Linked DNA regions of Homo sapiens. The protein of the gene in region 1 interacts with the protein of each later gene in a pairwise test. Each region holds a gene or a part of one and is shown in the gene's direction. Other genes may lie near its edges. The genes, in order: FKBP7, NFU1, STX7, TARS2, FARS2, TMEM54 and TMEM229B.

The links.
Region 2: the proteins of FKBP7 (region 1) and NFU1 interact in binary tests that used the Homo sapiens proteins (3 or more experiments, as listed by UniProt).
Region 3: the proteins of FKBP7 (region 1) and STX7 interact in binary tests that used the Homo sapiens proteins (3 or more experiments, as listed by UniProt).
Region 4: the proteins of FKBP7 (region 1) and TARS2 interact in binary tests that used the Homo sapiens proteins (3 or more experiments, as listed by UniProt).
Region 5: the proteins of FKBP7 (region 1) and FARS2 interact in binary tests that used the Homo sapiens proteins (3 or more experiments, as listed by UniProt).
Region 6: the proteins of FKBP7 (region 1) and TMEM54 interact in binary tests that used the Homo sapiens proteins (3 or more experiments, as listed by UniProt).
Region 7: the proteins of FKBP7 (region 1) and TMEM229B interact in binary tests that used the Homo sapiens proteins (3 or more experiments, as listed by UniProt).

What each region holds. Positions count from the first base shown.
Region 1 is NC_000002.12:178,472,101-178,475,600, reverse strand, and holds part of FKBP7 (peptidyl-prolyl cis-trans isomerase FKBP7 isoform a precursor), read left to right. Parts: intron 1-1,633; exon of another isoform or gene 1,634-1,746; intron 1,747-2,458; exon of another isoform or gene 2,459-2,572; intron 2,573-3,500. UniProt on the Homo sapiens protein: PPIases accelerate the folding of proteins during protein synthesis.
Region 2 is NC_000002.12:69,430,936-69,434,435, reverse strand, and holds part of NFU1 (NFU1 iron-sulfur cluster scaffold homolog, mitochondrial), read left to right. Parts: intron 1-2,430; coding exon 2,431-2,534; intron 2,535-3,500. UniProt on the Homo sapiens protein: Iron-sulfur cluster scaffold protein which can assemble [4Fe-4S] clusters and deliver them to target proteins.
Region 3 is NC_000006.12:132,471,617-132,475,116, reverse strand, and holds part of STX7 (syntaxin-7), read left to right. Parts: intron 1-2,741; coding exon 2,742-2,835; intron 2,836-3,500. UniProt on the Homo sapiens protein: May be involved in protein trafficking from the plasma membrane to the early endosome (EE) as well as in homotypic fusion of endocytic organelles. Mediates the endocytic trafficking from early endosomes to late endosomes and lysosomes.
Region 4 is NC_000001.11:150,497,419-150,500,918, forward strand, and holds part of TARS2 (threonine--tRNA ligase, mitochondrial), read left to right. Parts: intron 1-111; coding exon 112-329; intron 330-1,083; coding exon 1,084-1,246; intron 1,247-1,478; coding exon 1,479-1,616; intron 1,617-1,797; coding exon 1,798-1,875; intron 1,876-3,500. UniProt on the Homo sapiens protein: Catalyzes the attachment of threonine to tRNA(Thr) in a two-step reaction: threonine is first activated by ATP to form Thr-AMP and then transferred to the acceptor end of tRNA(Thr). Also edits incorrectly charged tRNA(Thr) via its editing domain.
Region 5 is NC_000006.12:5,268,013-5,271,512, forward strand, and holds part of FARS2 (phenylalanine--tRNA ligase, mitochondrial), read left to right. Parts: intron 1-3,500. UniProt on the Homo sapiens protein: Is responsible for the charging of tRNA(Phe) with phenylalanine in mitochondrial translation.
Region 6 is NC_000001.11:32,894,095-32,898,389, reverse strand, and holds the end of TMEM54 (transmembrane protein 54), read left to right. Parts: intron 1-70; coding exon 71-264; intron 265-2,420; coding exon 2,421-2,480; intron 2,481-2,646; coding exon 2,647-2,835; intron 2,836-2,950; coding exon 2,951-3,085; intron 3,086-3,456; coding exon of another isoform or gene 3,457-3,510; coding exon 3,511-3,585; 3' UTR 3,586-3,795; downstream 3,796-4,295.
Region 7 is NC_000014.9:67,482,222-67,485,721, reverse strand, and holds part of TMEM229B (transmembrane protein 229B), read left to right. Parts: intron 1-3,500.

The sequences.
Region 1 (3,500 bases):
AACCAGCATTATTGCTGGGAATGGAAATCATTCAACTTCTCTATCAACTGTTATCAAAAGTGAAAATGCAGGCCCGGGTGTGGTGGCTCATGCCTGTAATTCCAGCACTTTGGGAGGCTGAAGTGGGCAGATCACTTCAGGTCAGGAGTTCGAGACCAGTCTGGCCAATATGGTGAAACCCCGTCTCCACTAAAAATACAAAAATTAGCTGGGTGTGGTAGAGTGTGCCTGTAATCCCAGCTACTTGGGAGGCTGAGGCAGGAGAATCGCTCGAACCTGGGAGGCAGAGGTTGCAGTGAGCCAAGATTGCGCCACTGCACTCCAGCCTGGGCAACAGAGCGAGACTCCATCTCAAAAAAAAAAGTGAAAATGCACGTGCCTTCTTATCCAATAGTTCCATTTCCAGGAATGTGCACAAAGGTATATGTAAAAGAACATTCACTGCAGGCATTTTTGGGTGGGAGGGTGGCAAAAGGTTGGAAACCACCTGCCTATCCATCAATAGGAAATTAGTTAAATAAATTATAGTATATCTATACAATGAATTACTGTGTAACCAGTAAAAAGAATGAAGTAGAGCTATACTTATTAATATGTTAAAAATAAAGTGGAGGCCAGGCATGGTGGCTTCATGCCTATAATCCCAGCACTTTGAGAGGCTAAGGTGGGAGGATCACTTGAGCCCAGGAGTCTGAAAGCAGCCTGGGCAATGTAGGGAGACACAATCTCTACAGAAAATTAAAAAGTTAGCCAGGCGTGGCGGTATCCGCCTGTGGTCCCAACTACTCAGGGGGCTGAGATGGGAGGATCCCTGGAGCCTGGGAGGTCGAGGCTGCGGTGAGCTGTGATTGTGCCACTGCACTCCAATCTGGGCAACACAGCAAGACCCTGGCTCAAAAAAAAAAGTGGACAAGACTATATTCCACTTTTGGGATATATATTGAGCATCAGTGCCAGGCTTTGTTCTAGGCACTGGGCATAAAGCAGTGACCAAAGTAGACACTACTCCCAATCCTCTATGAGCTTTCATTTCAGAGGAGGAGTTTCACATATGCATGTATCTACACAGAATACATCTGGAAGAATATGCAGTCATCTGATGACATTAAGTGTTCCTGGGAAGGAGGCCTCAGGGTCAAGGATGAGAAGATTTCTTTTCACTCTAACATTTTGTACCATTTGAAAGTTTTATAAGGCATGTATTAATTTTTCCAAAATTAAAATTTTAAATTACAAAAATTGCATGTAGCAGAACAGAGAAGAAAATTTTTAAAGCAGGCAGGAGGATGGGCAGCCTGATAGGCTGTACCTTGCATCCTTAGTTAGGTTCTTGCTCCGTGTTGCTGCTTGAAGGCTATACAGAAAGAATCTTTGCCTCCTTACCCTATTTAGAGCCACTGCTGACTCCACCGGTTTGAAATAGTAAAGATTAATTTTCCACAATGAGATATTGGCATTGCTCCCAAATATTTCATGGAAGTGGCATGCCTTCTTTGAGGCAGTTGTCTTAGTCATTAAGAGTTCTTTCCAGCAAAATCGGGGCATCAGTGCCCCACACTGGATTGGCGGGTGGTGGGGGGGTGTCAGTGCTTTGAGTCAGACCCAGTCAGGCTTAAAACTCCTAAAGAGACAATTTCCAGATAACTTCAGCTTTATTTTTAATGCTTTTTGCCAATAATTTGATCCCATCAGAACAGCTCCCATGGTACCATAATTCATATATCCTGTTTTTATTTGTATAGGAACCTAGGAGAAAGAGAAGGAAAATTGAAAATAAATTAAGTCAAATGCAATACTTGTGCTAAAAATGTTGTCAAAAGTTGAGGCCACTTCTAGGCAAAATGTTGGAGGCAGAGTTTGCCTTTCAGTCTCTTTCTCATTTTCAAAGTTTTCCTTTCTGTCTTGCGTTGTGTCTTCAGATGCCTCCACATTCTGCCTACCACTAGAGCACCCACTCTCCTATCTGCCTAGAGCACACACATCTGTCATCATCAGGTGCTCATCCAGGGTTCACCGCCATCAGGCAAAGGACCACTTAGCTTATCTTTTTCATAAACTAATTTATGCTTAGATATGAATGACTACCCAGGCTGCCTAAGCTCTTAATAAATCAGAAACTTGCTGCAGAGATATAGAAGTTTGATGTGAAACAAGTTCATATTCAATTGGAGGTATCTCTAACAAACATTAAAGTGATTAATCTCACTAGTAATACCACCAGCACCCTCATTTTACAGAGTAAGAAACTGAGGCCCAAAAAAAGTGTTAATTGGACCATAGTTAATACTGACCTTGCCTGCGTTACATTAGGCATTGTAATCCAATACCTTGGATTACATTATTTTAAAAGTTGCAGTGTAGACCTTAAGTAACTGTTTAACAAACAACCTCTTGATTAAATAAGCATTTAAAAGTAAGTTGTTATTAAGACCTAACATTAGCTATAACTTTATTTTAGGTAGTACTTGAAGAAGTCTTTCTTCTGCAAAATATCCTTGTCTCATGTCACAGAACAACCCTGCATGTCTTGAAATGCATGTGACTTGTTAGTGCTTAAATAACAATACATGCGGTATGTATATATTCTTTACCTTAATTCCTACTTCTTTGATCTGCTTCTCTAAATATAAGTAATTCCGTAGCAAATGCATATTTTCCTCATTTTTATACTTTAGTTTTTTTTAAAAAAAAAAAAAAAACAAGAAAAAGAGGTAATTGGCAATATATCCTTTTTTTTTTTTTTTTTTTTGAGATGGAGTCTTGCTCTGTCACCCAGATTGGAGCGCAGTGGTGTGATTGATCTTGGCTCACTGCAGCCTCTGCCTCCCGGGTTCAAGCTATTCTCCTGCCTCAGCCTCCGAGGAGCTGGGATTACAGGCACACGCCACCATGCCTGGCTAATTTTTGTATTTTTAGTAGAGATGGGGTTTCGCCATGTTGGCCAGGCTGGTCTCGAACTCCTGGCCAGCCAGGCTGATCTCGCCCTCCTGGCCAGGCGCAGTGGTATAAGCCAAATAAGAATTGCTTGAACCTGGGAGGCAGAGGTTACAGTGAGCCGAGATCGCGCCATTGCACTCTAGCCTGGGTGACAGAGGAAGATTCTTGTCTAAAAAAAAAAAGTGGTATAAGCCACTGCGCCCGGCCAATATTTTCTATGTTTATAGCAAAATTGTTCAAAAACTGCATATGTACCTACAATATTTTTTCTTAAGAAATTCAAGTTTTGGGCTGGGCACAGTGGCGTATAGCTGTAATCCTAGCACTTTGGGAGGCCGAGGTGGGTGGCTCACCTGAGGCTAGGAGTTCAAGACCAGCCTGGCCAACATAGTGAAACCCCGTATCTACTAAAAATACAAAAAATAGCTGGGTGTGGTGGCTTGTGCCTGTAATCCCAGCTACTTGGGAGGCTGAAACACAAGAATCACTTGAACTCGGGAGGTGGAGGTTGCAGTGAGCCAAGATCGCGACACTGCACTACAGCCTGGGCAACAGAACAGATT
Region 2 (3,500 bases), about 110 Mb from region 1:
GCGCTGTGGCTCACGCCTGTAATCCCAGCACTTTGGGAGGCCGAGGCTAGTGGATCATGAGGTCAGGAGTTCAAGACCAGCCTGGCCAAGATGGTGAAACCCTGTCTCTACTAAAAATACAAAAATTAGCCGGGCATGGTGGTGGGCATCTATAATCCCAGCTACTTGGGAGGCTGAGGCGGAGAATTGCTTGAACCCAGGAGGCGGAGGTTGCAGTGAGCCAAGATCGCACCACTGCACTCCATCCTGGGCGACAGAGCAAGACTCCGTCTCACAAAAAAAAAAAGAAAAAAAAAAGTGAAGTGAAGTTACAACACTGGGTTAATATGTTTCCATCCAAAAAGCATATAAAAGGCAGGGCATGGTGGCTCACGCCTATAATCCCAGCACTTTGGGAGGCCAAAGTGGGAGGATTACTTGAGCCAGGAGCTGGAGATCAGCCTGAGCAACATAGTGGTAATCCATCTCTACCAGAAGTAAAAAAAAAAAAAAAAACTAGCTGGGCATGGTGGCATACAGCTGTAGTGTCACCTACTTGGGAGGCTGAGGTGGGAGAATCACTTGAGCCTAGGATGTTGAGGCTGCAGTGAGCCCTGATCACACCATTGTACTCCAGCATGGGTGACAGAACAAGACCCTGTCTCAAAACAAAACACGAAAAGCGTGATCAAGATCGTTGGCTGTGTAATCCCAGCATTTTGGGAGGCCAAGGCAGGTGGATCACTTTAGGTCAGGAGTTGGAGATCAGCCTGGCCAACGTGGTGAAACCCTGTCTCTACTAAAAATATAAAAATTAGCCGGGTGTGATGGTGTACACCTGTAATCCCAGCTACTAGGGAGGCTGAGGCAAGAGAATCACTTGAACCCAGGAGGTGGAGGTTGCAGTAAGCTGGGATCGCATCACTGCACTCCAGCGTGGGCGACAAAGTGAGACTCAGTCTCAAAAAAAAAAGACGGGCCAGGTGTGGTGTCTCATGCCTGTAATCTCAGCACTTTGGGAGGCCGATACGGGAGGATCACCTGAGGTCAAGAGTTCGAGACCATCCTGGCCAACATGGTGAAACCCTGTCTCTACTAAAAAGTACAAAAATTAGCCAGGCATGGTGGCGGGCACCTGTAATCTCAGCTACTCGGGAGGCTGAGGCAGCAGAATTGCTGGCACCTGGGAGATGGAGGTTGCAGTGAGCCGAGATTGTGCCATTGCACTCCAGCCTGGGCCAACAACAGTGAGACTCCATCTCAAAAACAAAAAGGACAGTCGTATACTTTTTTTTTTTTTTTTTTTGGAGATGGAGTCTTGCTCTTTGGGCCAGGCTGGAGTGCAGTGGCACGATCTCGGCTCACTGCAACCTACGCCTCCTGGGTTCAAGCGATTCCTCTGCCTCAGCCTCCCGAGTAGCTGGGATTACAGGCGCCCACCACCACTCCCAGCTATTTTTTGTATTTTTAGTAGAGATGGAGTTGCACCATGTTGGGCAGGCTCGTCTCGAACTCCTGACCTCAGGTGATCCACCTGCCTTGGCCTCCCAAAGTGCTGGCATTACAGGCGTGAGCCACCACCCCTGGCCCAATAGTATACTTTCTTTTAGATTTTTTGAAGTATTGAAATACTTTTCAAAACAGGTAATATAGGTTATCTTGAGAGAGGGAAACGTAAGGGACAGGAAAGGAGGGAGGCTTTCACTATTTATGCTTTTTTCCCTTACCAGTTTTGAACCATGTGACTCTATTGCCTAATTCTAAATTTTTTAAAAAAATAAAAAAGCTTATAGTTATTTGCTTCCTTCCTGTATAACCAAGAGTCTGGGACTATGGGTTATAAATTACTAATGTAGATACAATTCTGTTTCTTTTTTTTTTTGAGGTAGAGTTTCACTCTTGTTGCCCAGGCTGGAGTGCAATGGCATGATGTTGGCTCACTGCAACCTCTGCCTCCTGGGTTCAAGCAATTCTCCTGCCTCAGCCTCCTGAGTAGCTGGGATTACAGGCATGTGCCACCATGCCCGGCTAATTTTGTATTTTTAGTAGAGATGGGGTTTCTCCATGTTGGTCAGGCTGGTCTTGAACTCCCAACCTCACGTGATCCACCTGCCTCGGCCTCCCAAAATGCTGGGATTACAGGCGTGAGCCACCTCACCCAGCCCAATTCTGTTTCTTATACCTCAATGTTATATTATCCTGTGCACACCCGGTTATCAAGGGTAGGAATTTCCATTTGAGCTCTACCTGATTTTGAATTGTTTGTAGATATTGCTTGCCTAAGTAAGTGGAAATAATGTAGATGGAAGATGAAAAGTCAGTTCTCTAATTATTTCTATTGCGGGTTATGTTTAAATTTTACATAGGTCTTTTTTATACATGAGAAGTAGAAACCAACTTTAAAAGATTAGAGCTCTTAAAATGTCATTCATTATGTGCTTTTAAATGCAGGTTCTGTCATATGTTGAAGAATCCATACACCATTAAGAAACAGCCTCTGCATCAGTTTGTACAAAGACCACTTTTCCCACTACCTGCAGCCTTTTATCACCCAGGTAAAATTTCACCTCTTTTATAGCAGTTGTGTTTCAGAAACTGATGGAACTGTGCTAGGATTTTGTGGATCATAAAAGATGAGAATTTGTATATTTTCTATTTAGAAGCCTATAGATAGAATATAGGAAAAAAAGCTATATTTTTCTTATAGGCTTCTAAGTAGAAAATGTATTTGCAAGGATATTGTCCAATAGATCTATGAAATCTCAGTATGTTGTATAACATATCCCCTGCAACACAAGAGTTGCTCAATAAATGATTTCCAAAATGAAAATACTGTAGAAGTTAAAATCTGACTGGGTGTGGTGGCTCATGCCTGTAATCCCAGTACTTTGAGAGGCTGAGGCAGGTTGATCGCTTGAGCCCAGGAGTTTGAGACCAGCCTGGGCAACACAGCAAAACCCTGTCTCTACAAAAAATACAAAAAATTAGCTGGGCATGGTGGCGCACACGTGTAGTCCCAGCTGCTTGGGAGGCTGAGGTGGGAGAATCCCTTTAGCCCAGGAGTTCAAGCTTGCAGTGAGCCGTGATCACACCACTGTGCTCCAGCCTGGGTGACAAAGTGGGACCCTGTCTCAAAAAGAAGTTTCAAATGGGGATTGTGTTTCAAAGAATTCTATGTATTTAAAGCTACTGCTGTCCTTTTTTTGGATAAGAATACCCTTAAAATTAGTAAATTTCTGGCTTTCATCCAGACCTTAGAACACAGGATTTTGAATGTAGTAAAAAACTACATTCAAAAAAAAGAAAGAAAAGCTTTTTTGTCAAAATTAATTACTATGGTTTTGTTAATAATCTTGATTGTTAACGAGATATATACTTTAATTTTCTTTAATTTGGGAAATAGATATGATTTAAAATAATTTGAAGTGTGATGACTGTAATGTAGAGTTAGGGAAGTTTAAGGGGAGAGGGTATGTGTGTCTGCATGTGTGTATGTATGTAAATGTATACCTATATGTGTT
Region 3 (3,500 bases), on another chromosome or scaffold:
AGGCTTACCCTATCAAAGCAGAATTTCTTTAGTTGCATTTCTTACAGTTTTTAGGTAGGTTGTTTTTGACAGCTGTTGAAAAATTATACTCTAGTATCTCAATTTATGTGATTTACTTTCCATAGCTAAAAATCCCCGCAGTCACCAGAGTTTTATTTGGTTTAGATCCAATACATAACCAGCTACGTGAGCTGTCTCCCCACAAGTTTATACCTACATCCTTGAATTTCAGAGAGCATTAGCTTCCGTTTAAAAAAAAGTTATAATGAATTATATAGTACATATTCCAGTAAATTAATATGCTGTTAGAAGACCAGCAGTCATAGTGATAATATTTTGTCTGTGGTATGTTGTGGATTTTACAGAGTATTTTTACATATTTTATCATTTAAACCTTACAGAATTAGAGTAAGAGAAATAGACCAAAAGAACTGTTTCCATTTTGTTCATGTCTCTTACGGGTTTAACGAGTTACCCAATGTCATTTAGAACTTAACTCTTAAATTTTATTTCAGTACTGTTACAGCTGTAAATTTCAAGTCACATATATCTAGTAAGCAATACTTCTAAACAACATTAACTATAGAGGGAAAACTGCAAAGAGGACGATATTAAAAGATAGGTAATAGGAATTCATATTTTTAGGAAGTACAATTTGAAGGACTTACAATTATCTCTAATTTATATTTTATTTTTCCACAGTGGGTAAGTGTCAGAATGGTAAAAATGCTCCAAATCTAAATAATAAACCACAATTCATTAAACTAAAGTAAAATGGAATAGAAGTACATAATTCATAAAAGTTCTAATATTTTGATAGAGTTAATAATGAAGATTCTGAATATATATCCGTAGTCACTAAGGATTTTTTTTTTTTTTTTTTTTTTTTGAGACAGGATCTCATGCTGTCACCCAGGCTGGAGTGCAGTGACATTATCACGGTTCACTGCAGCCTGGACCTCCTAGGCTCAATCGATTCTCCCACCTCAGCCTACTGTGTAGCTGGGAATACAGGCACATCCACCATGCCTGGCTAATTTTTGTATTTTTTGTAGAGATGGTGTTTTGCCATGTTGCCGGCACTGGTCTTCAATTCTGGGCTCAGACAGTCCACCCACCTCACCCTCCCAGAGTGCTGTGATTACAGGCATGAGCCACCATGTCCAGCCTAAGGTCTTCTTTTTAAAACTTTGACTATATTATGATTTCCAGAGATTTACAAAAATGCATTAAAGATAGGGTATTTGGTAAATAGAGATAGAAATAGATTTTAATTACCCTTTGTCAGTCAAATACAGATCCCTATTCTTAAGCATATTCTTATACAATATCTCATTATTTTAAAGGACCCCAAGTGTGACCAGACCATATTTAAAATGAGATGAAATATATAAGAGGTACTGATGTTGTGATTTGTAAAACATCACAATTAATATGAGCTTTTTTTTAGTGTCATGTTTTTAAGTTGGAAATCTTTTCAATTTATAAGATAGCTAGATAAAATATGGATATGTAGTCAGCACTCTGTATCCATAGATTATATATCCCCAGATTCAACCAACTGCAGGTCAAAAATATTCAAGAAAAAAAAAAAAACAACACAATAATAAAAAAAAAAACTGAACTATAAAATATAGCAACTATTTACATAGCATTTACATTATTGTATTGGGTATTATAAATAATCTAGAGATGATTTAAAGATATGGGAGGATATGCATAGGTTATATGCAAATGCTATACCTTTTTATATCAGGGACTTGAGCATCAGCGGATTTTGGTATCCACAGGGGTCCTGGAACCAATCTGCAGATACTGAGGGATGACTATAATTTACTTCTTTTATTTATTGTGTTCTTTCCCTTTACAAGGAAATGCCATTATTTTTTCCAGCGTAAACTTAAATAATAGTAAATTTGTACCAATATTGCCTCTTTCCTTTTTATTTTTATTTTTTGAGACAAGAGTTTTCCTCTGTTGCTCAGGCTGGAGTGCAGTGGTGCAATCTCAGCTCATTGCATCCTCCACCTCCCATGTTCAAGTGATTCTTCTGCCTCAGCCACCCAAGTAGCTGGGATCACAGGCATGCTCCACCACACCTACCTAATTTTTGTTATTTTTGGTAGAGATGGGGTTTCGCCATGTTGGCCAGGCACGTCTCAAATTCCTGGCCTCAAGTGATCCGCCTGCCTCGGCCTCTCAAAGTGTTGGGATGACAGGTGTGAGCCAGCATGCCTGGCCCCTCCCCCCCGCCTTTTTTTTAAGTATCTATAGCATATACATGTTCACATAGAGAAATAAGAGAGGCCAGATATAACTAGATCTGGGAACTGGGCAAAGTCTAAGGTAACAAATCTTTTCTTGCTTACCTGACCTTCCAGGTGTGAGATGCAGATAAAGGGCTTCCACATCCCCAGTATCTCAAACATAAAGGATCAGACATCTAACAGTCTCTCCTTCAGGTTCCCTCTGATTCAAGTCATCTGTGTTTCTAAATGGCCGTTGAATTGATTTCTCTAAGCTTGCCTACCCTGTGTGAGTGAAGAACCTGACATATAATATTTGCTCATTATTTATCAAAGAATAGGATATGAAATTTTTTTTGATAGAGAAAGTTGAGAGCCAGTTTATGAAAAGGCAATTTTTGTACAACTGTTTATCAGTGTTGATTCAAAAGGCAGAGTTGAAGCTTAAAGAAGTATATTAGTCCTTTGGCTGTAATGCGTGTTTTCTCACTTTAGGCAACAGAAGCAGCAGTATACTAACCAGCTTGCCAAAGAAACAGATAAGTACATTAAAGAGTTTGGATCTCTGCCCACCACCCCCAGTGAACAGGTATCAAGCTTTAAGACACATTGTTGATGTATTGAATGTGAAAAAAACCCAGTGCACTGTAGGATCTTTGAACTGTTACGCTAGAAAGGAAATTATGCTAGAAAGGAAATCAAAAATAATTCTGTTTGAGATTAGTTCACAGAACACAAAACTATATTTAATTGCTCAGGTAGTATCCTGTGGTTCAATAAAGCAAAAATTATTTCCATGCATTTGCCCTGACCCATAATTAAGTTAGTTCTCAGAAAATGCTTCCTGAGTAATTATTTCCTGGCCTTCCGGGGCTGACTGCGTGGAACATGCAGGCTCATTCAAGATGTGAGGTGTCCTGGGGGCACATATTTATTTCCCTGCTTATTTAATGGAAGTTATTACTTAGCTAAAAGTATAAGGCTTTATTTGCCTGAAAAAGAATTACTTTAAAATAGCCTCAAAATAATAAGCTAGTTTTTAGCAGCGTGAAAACCTGAGGTGAGAAATCCAGCATAATGGGTCTTTTGCCTCAAGTTAAATATGCACAGTATTTGACATACTATCAGAATGTTACTGAGAGTTAATCTGTAAGGCCCTGTAATTGGGGAGTAAGTGAAAACTTCAGGGTTAAATAAAGAGCCAACTACCGCAAATTCAGTTGAACTTCACAGCTAGATTCTAGTTGGCTTTTT
Region 4 (3,500 bases), on another chromosome or scaffold:
TTGTGGTTGCAATCAGCATGGCCTGAGGGCCCAGGAAGATCACACAGCTGACACCCTACCTGCTTTCCTTCCAGTTACTCTGACCTTCCATGTCTGTACCCTCCTCTCCAGGCTGAGTATGCCCATCGTGGTTTCTCCGAGGTGAAAACTCCCACACTGTTTTCTACGAAGCTCTGGGAACAGTCAGGGCACTGGGAGCATTATCAGGAAGACATGTTTGCCGTGCAGCCCCCAGGCTCTGACAGGCCTCCCAGCTCCCAGAGTGACGATTCTACCAGGCATATCACAGATACACTCGCCCTCAAGCCTATGAACTGCCCTGCACACTGGTAAGCTGGGAGCTAGGGTTACAATCAGGTTGCTAAATATTAAATAATAGAAAGCACCTTGGGGCCGGGCACGGTGGCTCACGCCTGTAATCCCAACACTTTGGGAGGCCGAGGCGGGCGGATCACCTGAGGTCGGGAGTTTGAGACCAGCCTGACCAACATGGAGAAACCCTGTCTCTACTAAAAATACAAAAAATTAGCCGGGCACGGTGGCGGGCGCCTGTAGTCCCAGCTACTCAGGAGGCTGAGGCAGGCTAATGGCGTGAACCCAGGAGGTGGAGCTTGCAGTGAGCCGAGATCGCGCCACTGCACTCCAGCCTGGGTGACACAGCGAGACTCCATCTCAAAAAAAAAAAAAAAAAGAAAGCACCTTGGAAAGAGTATTGGGACACCGATTTGAGCCTACAGTCTTCCCCCTAGCTAACCATGTAAATTTGGGAAACTCATTTTACCTCTTTAGGTCTCAGTCTCCTTAAAGTTGCTATCTAAGGCTCCTCCTTCAGCTCAGTGACCATCACAGAACAGGGAAATGGTAAACGATGTCTGTTATTGTGTTACTGAGAAATCCACTTTTGAACCTCAGGGCTCAGACTGTGATGAGTGGGATTGACAGGACTCAGTGGGAGGATGTGCTGAGGCTGGAGAGGGTTATAGCAGATGGTGCAGAGAAAGTAGGCAAGCAGATTGGGTGGAGGAGCAGTCTTCGGGGGCTAGTCCTCCCTATGGCCCTGACCCCTCTGCACCCCAACCTCAGCCTGATGTTCGCCCACCGGCCCAGATCCTGGCGGGAACTGCCCCTGCGACTAGCTGACTTTGGGGCTCTACACCGGGCCGAAGCCTCTGGTGGTCTGGGGGGACTGACCCGACTGCGGTGCTTCCAGCAGGATGACGCTCACATCTTCTGTACAACAGATCAGGTGGCCTTTCCCTGGCTCCACCAAAGCTTTTCTAAACCACCTTTCTTTCTCCCTATGAACCTGCAAACCCCTGATCTTTATTTGCCCCCTGTATGTACTATAATTCAGCTACATTCTACCCCCAGCTTGCTTCCGCTTCCTCTCTGTTTTTGCCCTTTGTTTTCCTCAAACTGCCAGCATCCCTGATCTCTAGCGGGCTCACAGCTCACTGACCCTTATTTCCTGCCCCTAGCTGGAAGCAGAGATCCAAAGCTGTCTTGATTTCCTCCGTTCCGTCTATGCCGTTCTTGGCTTCTCCTTCCGCCTGGCACTGTCCACCCGGCCATCTGGCTTCCTGGGGGACCCTTGCCTTTGGGACCAGGCCGAACAGGTGAGTAGGAGGTAGAGAAATAGAGGCAGATAAACCACTCTCTGGTGGGAAGGAGTGGAGAATACAGTAATCAAGGTTCTCAGAGGCATCTGGTGAGTGGGTCATTTGTTGGGGACTGACCGGATGTGTTGCTTTTGAAGTCTAAGATGATGTATTCCACTCTTGTCTCATTCCTTCAAAGGTCCTTAAACAGGCCCTGAAGGAATTTGGAGAACCCTGGGACCTCAACTCTGGAGATGGTGCCTTCTATGGACCTAAGGTAAGCTTGGGACCCTGGTTAGTGTTGTATTTATTTATTTTTTGCTTTGTTTTAGTAAATATTTAATAGATACAAAGAATTTTTTTTTTTGAGACAGTCTCACTCTGTCACCCAGGCTAAAATGCAGTGGTGTGATCTCAGCTCACTGCAACCTCCAGCTCCCTGGTTCAAGCAATTCCCCTGCCTCAGCCTCCCGAGTAGCTGGGATTACAGGTGTACGCCACCACACCCGGCTAATTTTTTTGTATTTTTAATAGAGATGGGGTTTCGCCATGTTGGCCAGACTGGTCTCGAACTCCTGACCTCAGGCAATCCACCCCACTTGGCCTCCCAAAGTGCTGGGATTACAGGCGTGAGCCACCGCACCCGGCCACAAAGAAATATTTTTAAACTTACGTAGGATATAAAGAAAAACAATATACTTTCTGCCCTCTTGGCATCTGCAATCTAGTGAGGGCTGCTGAAGGTAAATAGGCCATATCAGTGCTGCGAGATCTGTGCTGTGTAGGTACCAAGAGAGCACGTTAGCTGGGGTTAGCATTACTCGGGGAGGTTACAAAAGGTGTCCTGCAGGAATCACTTTCCAATCTGAAAGGTGAGTGTTGGCCAAGTAAAGATGTGTTTCAGGAGGGAACAGTGTAGGCAGAGGCTGGGGATAAGGATGAAAACACATGGCAGACCAATCTGGGCAACACAGGGAGACCCTGTGTCTACCAAAAAAAAAAAAAAAAATTAGCCGGGTGCAGTAGCTTGTGCCTGTGGTCCCAGCTACCCAGCAGGCTGAGATGGGAGGATCACCTGGTCCCAGGAGGTAGAGGCTGCAGTGAGCCGAGATTGCGCCCCACTGCACTCCAGCCTGGGTGATAGAGTGAGACCCTGTCTCAAAAAAAAAGAAGCCAAGGGGAAAAAAGGACTGAAAAGTGTCCACTGGATTTAGTAAAAAGGCTGCTGGATTTCAAAGGACCATTTTCAGTAAAGTAGGGCCTGAGGGTGGAGTTAGAAGATGAATAAATGAGGCCTGTGTGGTGGCTCACGCCTGTAATCCCAGCACTTTGGGAGGCCGACGTGGGTGGATCACTTGAGGTCAGGAGTTCGAGACCAGCCTGGCCAACGTGGCGAAACCCCATCTCTACTAAAAATATAAAAATTGGCCGGGTGAGGTGTTAGGACACACCTGTAGTCCCAACTACTCAGTAGCCTGAGGCAGGAGAATCGCTGAACCTGGGAAGTTGCAGTGAGCCAAGATCACACCACTGCACCCTAGCCTGGGCAACAGAGCAAGACTCCGTCCCAAAAAGTAAAAATAAAACAGGCTGGGGGCGGTGGCTCACGCCTATAATCCCAGCACTTTGGGAGGCTGAGGCAGGTGGATCACCTGAGGTCAGGGGTTTGAGACCCTGTCTCTACTAAAAATACAAAAATTAGCCCAGCGTGGTGACAGGCACCTGTAAACCCAGGAGGCGGAGGTTGCAGTGAGCCGAGGTCGCACCACTGCACTCCAGCCTGGGCGACAGAGTGAGGCTCCATCTCAGAAAAATAATAATAAAATGAAAAATAAAATAAATGCTATGATGAGAGGAAGTCTATTTGGAGGGAGAAGTTGTTGTAAAGGGAAGTTCCTGGAG
Region 5 (3,500 bases), on another chromosome or scaffold:
GTCTGTTCATATCCTTCGCCCACTTTTTGATGGGGTTGTTTGATTTTTTTCTTGTAAATTTGTTTAAGTTCTTTGTAGATTCTGGATATTAGCCCTTTGTCAGATGGATAGATTGCAAAAATTTTCTCCCATTCTGTAGGTTGCCTGTTCACTCTGATGGTAGTTTCTTTTGCTGTGCAGAAGCTCTTTAGTTTAATTAGATCCCATTTGTCAATTTTGGCTTTTGTTGCCATTGCTTTTGGTGTTTTAGACACGAAGTCCTTGCCCATGCCTATGTCCTGAATGGTATTGCCTAGGTTTTCTTCTAGGGTTTTTATGGTTTTAGGTCTAACATTTAAGTCTTTAATCCATCTCACATTAATTTTTGTATAAGGTGTAAGGAAGGGATCCAGTTTCAGCTTCTACATATGGCTAGCCAGTTTTCCCAGCACCATTTATTAAATAGGGAATCCTTTCCCCATTTCTTATTTTTGTCAGGTTTGTTAAAGATCAGATGGTTGTAGATGTGTGGTATTATTTCTGAGGGCTCTGTTCTGTTCCGTTGATCTATATCTCTGTTTTGGTAACAGTACCATGCTGTTTTGGTTATTGTAGCCTGGTAGTATAGTTTGAAGTCAGGTAGCGTGATGCCTCTAGCTTTGTTCTTTTTGCTTAGGATTGACTTGGCAATGCGGGCTCTTTTTTGGGTCATATGAACTTTAAAGTAGTTTTTTCCAATTCTGTGAAGAAAGTCATTGGTAGCTTGATGGGGATGGCACTGAATCTATAAATTACCTTGGGCAGTATGGCCATTTTCACGATATTGATTCTTCCTATCCATGAGCATGGAATGTTCTTCCATTTGTTTGTGTCCTCTTTTATTTCATTGAGCAGTGGTTTGTAGTTCTCCTTGAAGAGGTCCTTCACATCCCTTGTAGGTTGGATTCCTAGGTATTAGAACTAGAAATACCATTTCACCCGGCAATCTCATTACTGGGTATATACCCAAAGGATTATAAATTATGCTCTGTAAAGACACATGCACACATGTGTTTATTGCAGCACTGTTCACAATAGCAAAGACTTGGAACCAACCCAAATGTCCATCAATGATAGACTGGATTAAGAAAATGTGGCACATATACACCATGGAATACTATGCAGCCATAAAAACGGATGAGTTCATGCCCTTTGTAGGGACATGGATGAAGCTGGAAACCATCATTCTGAGCAAACTATCGCAAGGACAGAAAACCAAACACCGCATGTTCTCACTCATAGGTGGGAATTGAACAACGAGAACACTTGGACACAGGATGGGGAACATCGCACACCGGGGCCTGTGGTGGGGTTGGGGGAGGGGGGAGGGATAGCATTAGGAGATATACCTAATGCCAGCATGGCACATGTGTACATATGTAACAAACCTGCACCTTGTGCACATGTACCCTAGAACTTAAAGTATAATAAAAAAAAAAATGAAAATAACCAAAAAAAAAAAAAGAGAAAAGAAGAGTCCTTTCATTGCTGTTTAGCAGTATCTCATTTTAGTAATTTTTCTAGTGACATATTTGAAGTTCTGATTGACTTCTTCGAATGAGTGTATTAGCCGCCATCTCTTGTTTGTTCAGGTCAGTAGGTTGTTTACAGAAAACATTTAGAATTTGCAGTGTTGAGTCTGTTTACAAAAAACAGCCTACATTTTGCTAATCACTGGAAAAATACTAGGTCAGTGTCTTAAGATGTGCAATACTGAGATCTGTGATGTTAACTGATCTCTCAGAGGATGGGTCGATACATATCGTTGATAGTATACTGTAGACTGTTATTAACAATAGAAGATATACAGAGAATTCATGATTTCTTTGGTATTATAGTGAATTACATGATTTAATATTTTATAACGTTTTAATGTAAACATTTATTTTCTGAGCACAATTGAAGCACTTCAGCCTGGCAAACTTGTAATCTGTATGTGTAATTGTGAGTTTGAGTTAACTAACAATATTTAAGAGTTATAAAAGCCTGGCTTCTGTGAAATGGATTACAGTAATATTGGCAGAGAGTAAAACAGTTAGTTTCAGTTAATGAAGATGAGTTTTTTGGGAGAATTATCTTTTTTTAAATCAATTCCTGGAATTCTGCAGTGCAAAGGGAAAGTAAAATGAAGCAGTCATGAAATAGAAAAAGCTTAGCAGGCAGCATACTTTCTTTCCTGTTTCTTGACGTTCTGAGATAAGCACATTGTTATTTATTTCAAGTCTTGGAGCACTTTGAGACAAGCACATGTGCCTGGGCATTCATAACATTAAGCCCTGTTAGGAATCCCACTTACACCCTTGGCTTCTGCGTACTGTGAGAGCTGGGCTGGATGATAATTACAGTCAGCTTTCATTTGTAGAGCCCAGGTCTTCAAATAATTTCCAAGTAAACTATCCCAGATTAATACGTTTCAGGACATAAGTGTGGTTCGCTAGAGCTGTCAAGCTGTCTGGATGCCCTTCTGTTAACTTTGTAGAAGAGATTCCACGTGTGTCAAGTTACAGTGTTTGCTGAAATTTTTCTGTTGTCTTGAAAGCTATTTGAAAATGAAATGTTCATTATAGTACTGGTGGTCAGGTATGTTCCTTAGATATATATGAATTAATGTCACCACACTATAGACAGTAATTTTTATATCACCTTCTCTCCAAAAACCTGCAGCACTTTTAGGATGAAGTCTAATTCCTTAACACAGCCTATGAGACCCTGACGACTATGGCGCTTACCCACTTCTCCAGTCCCATGTCATACCTTTTTATTTTTCGCTTGCTGCTTTTCATTCTTTAGTACTCACCTCTTTCCCCTCTACCCTGGGGACCTTTGCAAATGCTGATCCAGCTGCCTGGAGTGCCCTTCCTTCCCTTGCTAATTATTCTTCTGATCTCAGTTTAAGAGATGCTTACTCAAAGCTACCTTCTCTAACTTGAGTACATCTTCCTCTGTTAAGCTCCCTTAGTATGGTGAATTGCTCTTCAGCTTAGAGTGACTGCCATTGCAAGTAACTGAAGTCAAATTGTTTTAAACAAACCTAGTGGCTTTATTGTCTCCTGTGTCTTGAGGGTTCAGAAGCCAGATGGGCTTTAGGGTTGATTGGTTTGAGTGATGTTGCCAAAGATTCAATTTTGTGCTTTTCTCTACTTTGTCTTCTCTAACGTAAATTTTATCGTCTGGCCAGAGTCCTCTCTCTCGGTTATGGGAAACCATCAACAGTTTGGGGGCGCTTGTTTCCAAAACCTTAGAGGAGTGAGAGAGCTTCTGGACCAAGAGTGCTCAGCAGTCCTCTCCGTTCATGTCACTGGCCCTCCTTGTGTCATGTCCTCATCCATTTCTGAACCAATAACTGTGACCAGGGAGAAGATAGGATTCTTTTGGTCTTGAACCAGTTGCCTAGCTCCTAGAGATAAAGGGGAATTATTTTTTGTAAAAGGAACAAAGTTCACTAGAGCAATCTTGCCAGAGTTATATTTTTTTATTTGATT
Region 6 (4,295 bases), on another chromosome or scaffold:
GGCCTCAGCTTCCCCTTCTGCCCAGCAGGATAAGCCCCACGCACAGCCCTGACATAGCTGTCCCCCACAGGAGGCCTGAGTGTGGGCGACTTCCGGAAGGTGCTGATGAAGACAGGCCTGGTGCTGGTGGTGCTGGGCCATGTGAGCTTCATCACAGCTGCCCTGTTCCATGGCACAGTGCTGCGCTACGTGGGCACCCCTCAAGATGCGGTGGCTCTGCAGTACTGCGTGGTCAACATCCTCTCTGTCACTTCCGCCATCGTGGTATGGCCAGGCTGGGAGGGTGGTTGGTGGGAGGAGGCTGGAGGGGGCTTGAAGGGTCTTCAACAGGTCCCCACCCAGAGCCTGTGGTGGTAAGCAGACAGCCTCAAGGACTAACCCTTTGTCTGCCACTTACCAACTGCCCAAGTCACTCAACTTCTTCATCTATCAAATGGAGATGGTAACAGTGTTTACCTCTGAGGGTCCTAATGGGTACTGATGAGATCATCCACACAAAGTGCTTAGCAGAGTGTCTGGCATGGCATGTTGTTAGCACCCACTACTGTGAGCTAGGATGATTATTACATCGAGGAATAGCCACAGCACCACTGGACAGAAGAAAGGAGCAGGAGGTGAGCTTGGGAGGGTGCCGGAGGGTTTCACAGAGTGCAGGCCTCTGACCTGGGTATTGATGGATGAGCAGGAGTTCACAGACAGGCTGCCATGACCAGAACCTACATATTGGCATGCTGAGGCTAGCATAGGCAGGAAAGGAAGCTGAGATGGCATTCCGAGTACAGAGAATGGGAGACGGGAAGGTTGGAGGTGGAAATGACTAAGATCTGTTCTGGAGATTCTGAGAAAACCAATTTGGCAGGAGCTTAGCATTAGGCCCGGTCTGTAGCAACTGCTCAATGAATGGTAGCCACGGTTGTGACCAGATATCAGTACCTGTTTGACTAGCACATGAATGGAGGGGTCTGGTAGTCTCAAGTTTCTAAAGCTCTTTCTTGCCGGTCAGCACAAGTGGCCACAGCCTCGGGGGAAGATCCTCCCGCACATCAGTGTCTGAGTTCCATCCCTGCCTTCTCCTGGCTGAGGGACTTATTTCTCTCTCTAGGCCTGTTCCTCCCTTGCAAAATAAAGCTCAGACAGCCTGCTGGCCTCAAGGCTTGGGAGAATGGGAGTCATAGGTCCCAGCAAGAAAGAGAGGCTCTGTTGGTGGGACAGGGCTGGGATGGGCGGATGTGTGCAGGGTCCTTGGAGTTCCTCTAATACTGTTGTGAGGAAGGCAGGGAAGGCAGTGAGCTCAGGGCGAGGAGGTCCACCAGGATGGACTTTGAGCTGGACCACTTCAGCCTTCCCCTCACTTACTCGGTTAATCCTCACTTCTCCCAGCAACTGGGGGCCATTATTATACCTGTTTCACAAAAGAGGAAACCAAGACTCAGGGATTCACCCAACCTCCTGCTGATACACAGAAGCCAAACCAGATTGGAAACTATTTGTGTCTGACACCAAAACCAGTGTCCTTTCTGTCAGCTCATCCTGCAGAGTGGGGCTAAGCCCACAGAGATGAGGCACTCTGTTGTGGCTCTCATGTGAACTAAAGACATGCTAGGCCTGGAACCCAGGACCCCGTCATACCACCTGCCTCAGATGGGTCCGGCCCAAGCCTGGTCCAGTGAGGAACATCAGGAGGAAGGCTGGCTGGGTGGACCCCAAAGATCCAGAGGGCAGCTGTTGGGCTGAACTGTGGGGTAGCCCCACCCCTTGGGATCGAGGCTGGTTAGGGAAACGTGTGCAAACCTGAGCAGGGCTTGCAGGATCCACACGGGCAGAGGAGCAGGAAGGTGAGAGGGTGCATGGGCAGTGTCCTGAGCAGGCTGTGTATGGGCATCCACATCCAGAGCAGTGAGGGAGGAAGGTAGCCCAGGTAGGGCTGAGAAGCCAACAGGGTTGGGGCTGGGATCTGGTCACTGAGAGCCTGGAATCATTGAAAATACTCCCAGAGATTTAAAATTCTACTCCATAACATGTCTTGGTTTGTTTCAATGTAACAATTTTGATTTTAGTTCCTTGCTAACTGGGTTAGTTTCTTCCACAATCTTTTTCATTCCAGAAAGGGGTGTCCCATGCATACCCTGGCATGCCCCGGTGGCCCCAGGATACATGAACCTGCTTGAGACACAGGCTTAGGAGTGGGGACTCATGGAAGGTTGTAGAGAGGGAGTGACTGTTTTAGAAACATCATGTCAGGCTGGACTATGAGGAGGCAGATGGAGATGTGAGGCCCAGGCTAAGCAGCAGGTGAGGGGTGGGGGAGTCTGGAGGGCAATGGTTGGCGCCGGTGAGATCATTATCCCAGAGTGGCCCTGATCCCCCTGCCCCTGTTCCTCCAGCCAAGGAGTCAGGGCTGACTTGAGCCTTCCCTACAGGTCATCACTTCAGGCATCGCAGCCATCGTGTTGTCACGCTACCTCCCTAGCACCCCCCTGGTACGTGGTGCCTCCTGGGATGGGGCTGTGAGGGAAGGGTAGGGGCAGCAGCCACCCGCCAAGGGCCTGGCCTCCTTGGAGAGGGTAAGGCTGACCCTCAGGGAGGCCAGAGCTGCCCATGGGGGCCAAGCACGACGCCCATTGACCAGTGGCCTCCCCCGTCCAGCGCTGGACAGTGTTTAGCTCGAGCGTGGCCTGTGCTCTCCTTTCTCTGACCTGTGCCCTCGGCCTCTTGGCCTCCATCGCCATGACCTTTGCCACCCAGGGCAAGGCACTGCTGGCTGCCTGCACTTTTGGGAGCTCTGAACTACTGGCCCTCGCACCTGACTGTCCCTTCGACCCCACACGCATTTATGTGAGTACCTAGGCCTGGAGTAGGGGCACCAGGCCCTCGCACGGGTGGGAAGGGCTCTTGGAATCCACCCTCCACCCCCAACTCCAGCCAGCCATCTCTGCCCCATGCCCCGCAGAGCTCCAGCCTGTGCCTCTGGGGCATCGCCCTAGTGCTCTGCGTGGCGGAGAACGTGTTTGCTGTACGCTGTGCTCAGCTCACCCACCAGCTGCTGGAGCTGAGGCCCTGGTGGGGGAAAAGCAGCCACCACATGGTAAGTTCCCTCCACAGCCCTGACTCCCCGAATTTCCTGGGAGCCCCTGCCAGGGTGCCCAAGCTGCTCTGCCCCACCCCTATGTATGGGCCCCCACCTTGAGAAATGGGGCAGAAGTTTTCTCCCCAGGAGCAAAGGGAGAGGCCTGGAGGCTGGGAGAGGTGAGATCTCCCAGCAGAGTCACACAGCTGACACCTGGCTCTCCTAGGGCCCAGGATGAGTCTTGAGGGAGGGGCAGGGGTGTCTGGGCTCGCACTGAGGGCATTGCAAAGGTCAGGCCTGGCTCTTGCAGTGGAGTGGGTAGTGATGCCCCTTTGCCCCCAGAGAGCCTTCCAGCCCTCACCTCCTTCCATTTCCCGGATGTCCTGGAGGAGGAGACCCAGGCTGAGAACCAGTGGGTCTGGCAGCCTCCTGTGTCTCTGCAGATGCGGGAGAACCCAGAGCTGGTGGAGGGCCGTGACCTGCTGAGCTGCACCAGCTCTGAGCCTCTGACCCTCTGAGAGATGATGTCCTGCCCAGGCCCGATGGCCACTAGGACCCTGCAAGCAACTCTGCTCTGTGACCAGGCCAGGATTCCTGGAGCTGGCCTGAGAGGGCTCAATGGACCCTCGGGGACCCAAGTGGGGCTTTCAACCCTCTCCCCCACCACCCAGCCCACTGCACTGAAATGAGACTTTATTCTGAAATTATTAAAAAGAACAGAGATGCTCCATTTGGCTGCATGCAGGGGGGGCGGTTGGGGGGACAGAGGGGAGGACAGGGGCTCAGCCAGGGGGACCGTGTCTCTTTCCCACGCAGGACACTGTGCATGGGGCTCTGGGTGCATCTGCCCATCTGTCTATGGGCCTGTGTGTGTGTGAGAGGCCAAACACAGAGAGCTCCGTGGGTCTGTGTGTATCCAAGTGCTAAAAGGCAGGCTGGCTTTCTGGGGCCCACAGCTGGCGGGCTAGTATCCTGGAAGGTTTCACTTGGTGGCTTGGCCTAGGGACCAGCAAGGGCTGGGGTGGGAAGGGTGGCTCAAGGAAGCCTCTTTCTCCAACTCCACACCCCTAGAATCCTTCTCTCCCCTCCAGATAAAAAGTCTCCTCCCCTGGGCATGACTCCCCCCACCCCGCAAGCTGAGACCTGCAAGAAGGGGACTGCCCCTTTGGGGGAGGGGTCGGGCCTTGGGGCTGGTGGGTGGGTAAGGGGGCCTGACTGAGGGGCAGAC
Region 7 (3,500 bases), on another chromosome or scaffold:
GCCTTAAAAAATGACAATTGGCTGCTTTCCCAACCCCCAGAGGCCTGTCTGGCCTGAAGGCTGTTATGTCTGTGCAGGGCCCGTAGCCTGGTGGGATCAGAGGCCTGCAGGAAGGAAGCTCCCCAGAAGGCATGGCAGGCAGAGCTGGGCTTTTGCAATCTTGAACAGACAAGCTTTTTTTGGAGTTCCTAGGCTGGTCCATGGGAACCCAGAGCTTCAGATTCCATGCAGGAATTTGCAGGGAGTAGAAAAGGGGTAATCAGGTCTTTTTCCACTTTAGGTAGATCTTGACTCTCCTAGTTGACAGTTTATAATTCAGGGCCAGAATCTGTTTTCCACTCAGCCTGGGCTTACAAAGTCAGTTTGACTGGAGAGTTTCTCAGGAAGTGTGTTCTTGAGTTGATTTGTAGCCAGGGTGGTGTGAGCAAGCCTAGACTGTAGGAGGGGAGTTGGGGGTAAAGAGATGGCCATGGGTGCCTCTGTGGGAACGTCGTTCCTCAGATGGGAGGCACATCTCCCCAGAGCAATTTATGCCATCAGCCTTAAGGCTGTTGTACCGTTTGGTTCAGTGATTCTCCTTCTGGAATTATCCATTAAGATATATTATTAGGAAATAGTACCAGAGAAGAAAAGGGCTGAATTCTTCCATTACAGGCATTAAAGGTAATTCTCGTTATATCATCTGTAGTAGTAGAAATGGGAAACAACTGTTCCCTTTGGACATCTAGGTTAAGTAAATTACAGTTTTCCGCTTGCTGGAATATTACACAGCCATTATAATAATGAGCACAGAGGCTATATAACAACTTGGAAAAACAGTTATGACAAGTAAAAATGGCAGGTTGCAGAATAAGTATATTATGGTGACTTGTAAAATACACACATAGGAAAATATTGCAAAGGAGAAATGGTAATCGCTGTTAGTTCAGAATTATGAGTGCTTTTTCTTTTTTTTTCTTTATTAGAAATGAGGTCTCACTATGTTGCCCAGGCTGGTCTCAAACTCCTGGGCTCAAGCAGTCCTCCCGCCTCAGCCTCCCAAAATGCTGGGATTACAGGTGTGAGCCCCCATGCCCGGCCTATGAATGCTTCTTCTATGATGCATGGATTGGCTTTTTAAAAAATAAAATTGAATCCGGATGACTACACAACATACCATTAATAGTGACTTTCTCTAAGATGTGTGATTACAGGGAACTTTTGCTTTCTATGTCATTCTGTAATGTTTAAATTTCAGCTGTGAGCACATGTTGCTTTTATAATTAGAAAAAAAATTAAATGCTAGAATTAAATGTTTTAGAAGGCTATATTTCTCAAGAAAGGAGGGAAGAGAGACCGAGGCAGCTAGCTGTTTATACCTGCCCTCATCAGTGTTTAAGGGCCTGGGCCTGTTTGGGCCCACTCATCCATCCATTCATTCCACAAGTATTACTAGGTATTATTGCCAGGCACCACTCTAGGCACTGACTAAACAGCAGTGAACAAGACAGTGCCCCTGCTCTCATGAAGTTTTCATTCTAGTTGAGGAGAGACAGACCATAAATAAGTAGCAACATATCAGAAAGTGAAAGTGCTATGTAGAAAATAAAATGGAATGATGTGAGTGACAGAGAGGCTATTTTGGACTGGGGATCAAAAGTCCCTGAGATATGACAGCTCAGCTGAGATCTGAATGGTAACAGCAAGGCAGCCACATACAGGTCTGGGATGCCAGCCTGCCAGTCCCCCGTGCAGGGCATCCTTCGCTTTCTGAGCCCCAGGGACCTCTGTGCCAGAACTGACTCCATCCCCCAAGCCCACTCACCCTGCCCTGCCTCCTGCTGCGGTTTGCTTGGGATCTGAGGCCCCCTGAAATCCTCTGTGTTCGGACCGCTCCTCCTGACATGCTGGCTGTTGCTCCTCTGGGCAGCTGGCCCCTGCTCTTGGCTGGTGTCTCCATGGCAGGGCTGGGCCGGGCCATCTGAGACTCCCAGGAGCACTGGTGTGGGCTGGCAGTCAGGGGGCCTCTGGGTTGTGTGTGTCCTGGTGAGGGGCCTTTGAATGGCGCATGCCTTGGGGCCTGAGGGTTGGTTGCTGTCATGGTCCTGTGACTGTCAGCTTTGACCCTGGAGGGCCTCTGTGTGGATCCCGAGGAACAGGCTGGGAGCCTTTAGGAACTCTGACACCCAGTTGGGAAGTTTGTTAATGAACCACCTAGAAGTTCACAACCTTCTCCTTGCTTCCTGTTGTCTCTCCACATACCATCCCAGCCTTCCAGAAGCAGGAACTCAGAAAATGGTAGTGCCCTCAGAGGAGCCTGCAGTCAGCCTCGGGGGCAGTGCAGTGTGCTGATTAGGAGCAAAGACTCTGGAACCAGATTTGTGGGGTTTGAATCCCAGCCTTGCCTTTTATAGTTATTAGAATGTAGGCTCGGCCAGGTGTGGTGACTCGTGCCTATAATCCCAGCACTTTGGGAGGCCGAGGCAGGCAGATCACTTGAGGTCAGGAGTTCAAGACCAGCCTGGCCAACATGGTGAAACCTCGTCTTTACTAAAAATACAAAAATTAGCTGGGTGTGGTGGCAGGAACCTATAATCCCAGCCTCTTGGGAGGCTGAGGCATGAGAATTGCTTGAACCCGGGCGACAGAGGTTGCAGTGAGCCAAGTTCACACCACTGCACTACAGCCTGGGTGACAAAGTGAGACTCCATCTAAAAAAACAAAAAACAAACAAAAAAAGAACGTAGCCTCTTTCTGCCTCACTTTCCCCATCTGTAAAATGGGCTTGAGAATTTTTTGAGTTAATACATGGAAATACTGAGAAGAGCACCTGGTTATTATTATTACTGTGACTTGGGAGGTGGAGGGAGGACTTCATCAAGGCCTGCAGTATCACTAATCCCAGGGGCTTTCCTTGGGGGGCACCCACAGCAAGAGGGTGGAAGTCTGCAGCATGTGCACCAGCCAGTGGCTACAGGAGTTTCCCTCCACTTGCTTCCCTTCTGGCCCTGGGCAAGCCCTATTTTCCTCCCTGCTAACTTGATGACAACAGGGGAAGTTCAGGGAGGTTTCTGCCCTTTCCTCATTGAAGCCACTTATCTTCAGCACAGAGCCGCCCAAGGGCTCCTGAAGCTGTCCCCCGCTGCGTTGCCTCAGGGGTCTCCTAGAAGGGCTGTGGGTCTCCCCAGAACATGGAACTGTAGTGATGGGGGTGGCTGGGGATGGGGAGTGAAGCTTGGGAAGTGAGTGGAGTGAAAGCGGAAGGCCTTCCCAGCCCGGTTGCATGGGAGGGGAATCCCAATTTTCTGGCCAGATGCTTCTCTGGACAAAAATTCCCAGAGTCACTGTGTTGTGGCACCTTAGCCCCCTGAAACAAGATGGGAGTTTTTGACAAAACCAAGGGCAGTTATTCCATCTGGTTTTGCCTTCAGCCTGTCTTAGACTTTTATGGCAGCCTCTTTACCCCTCTCAACTGCTGGCCATGTCCCCTGCCACCCTGTGGAACAGCAGGCTCGGAGAGC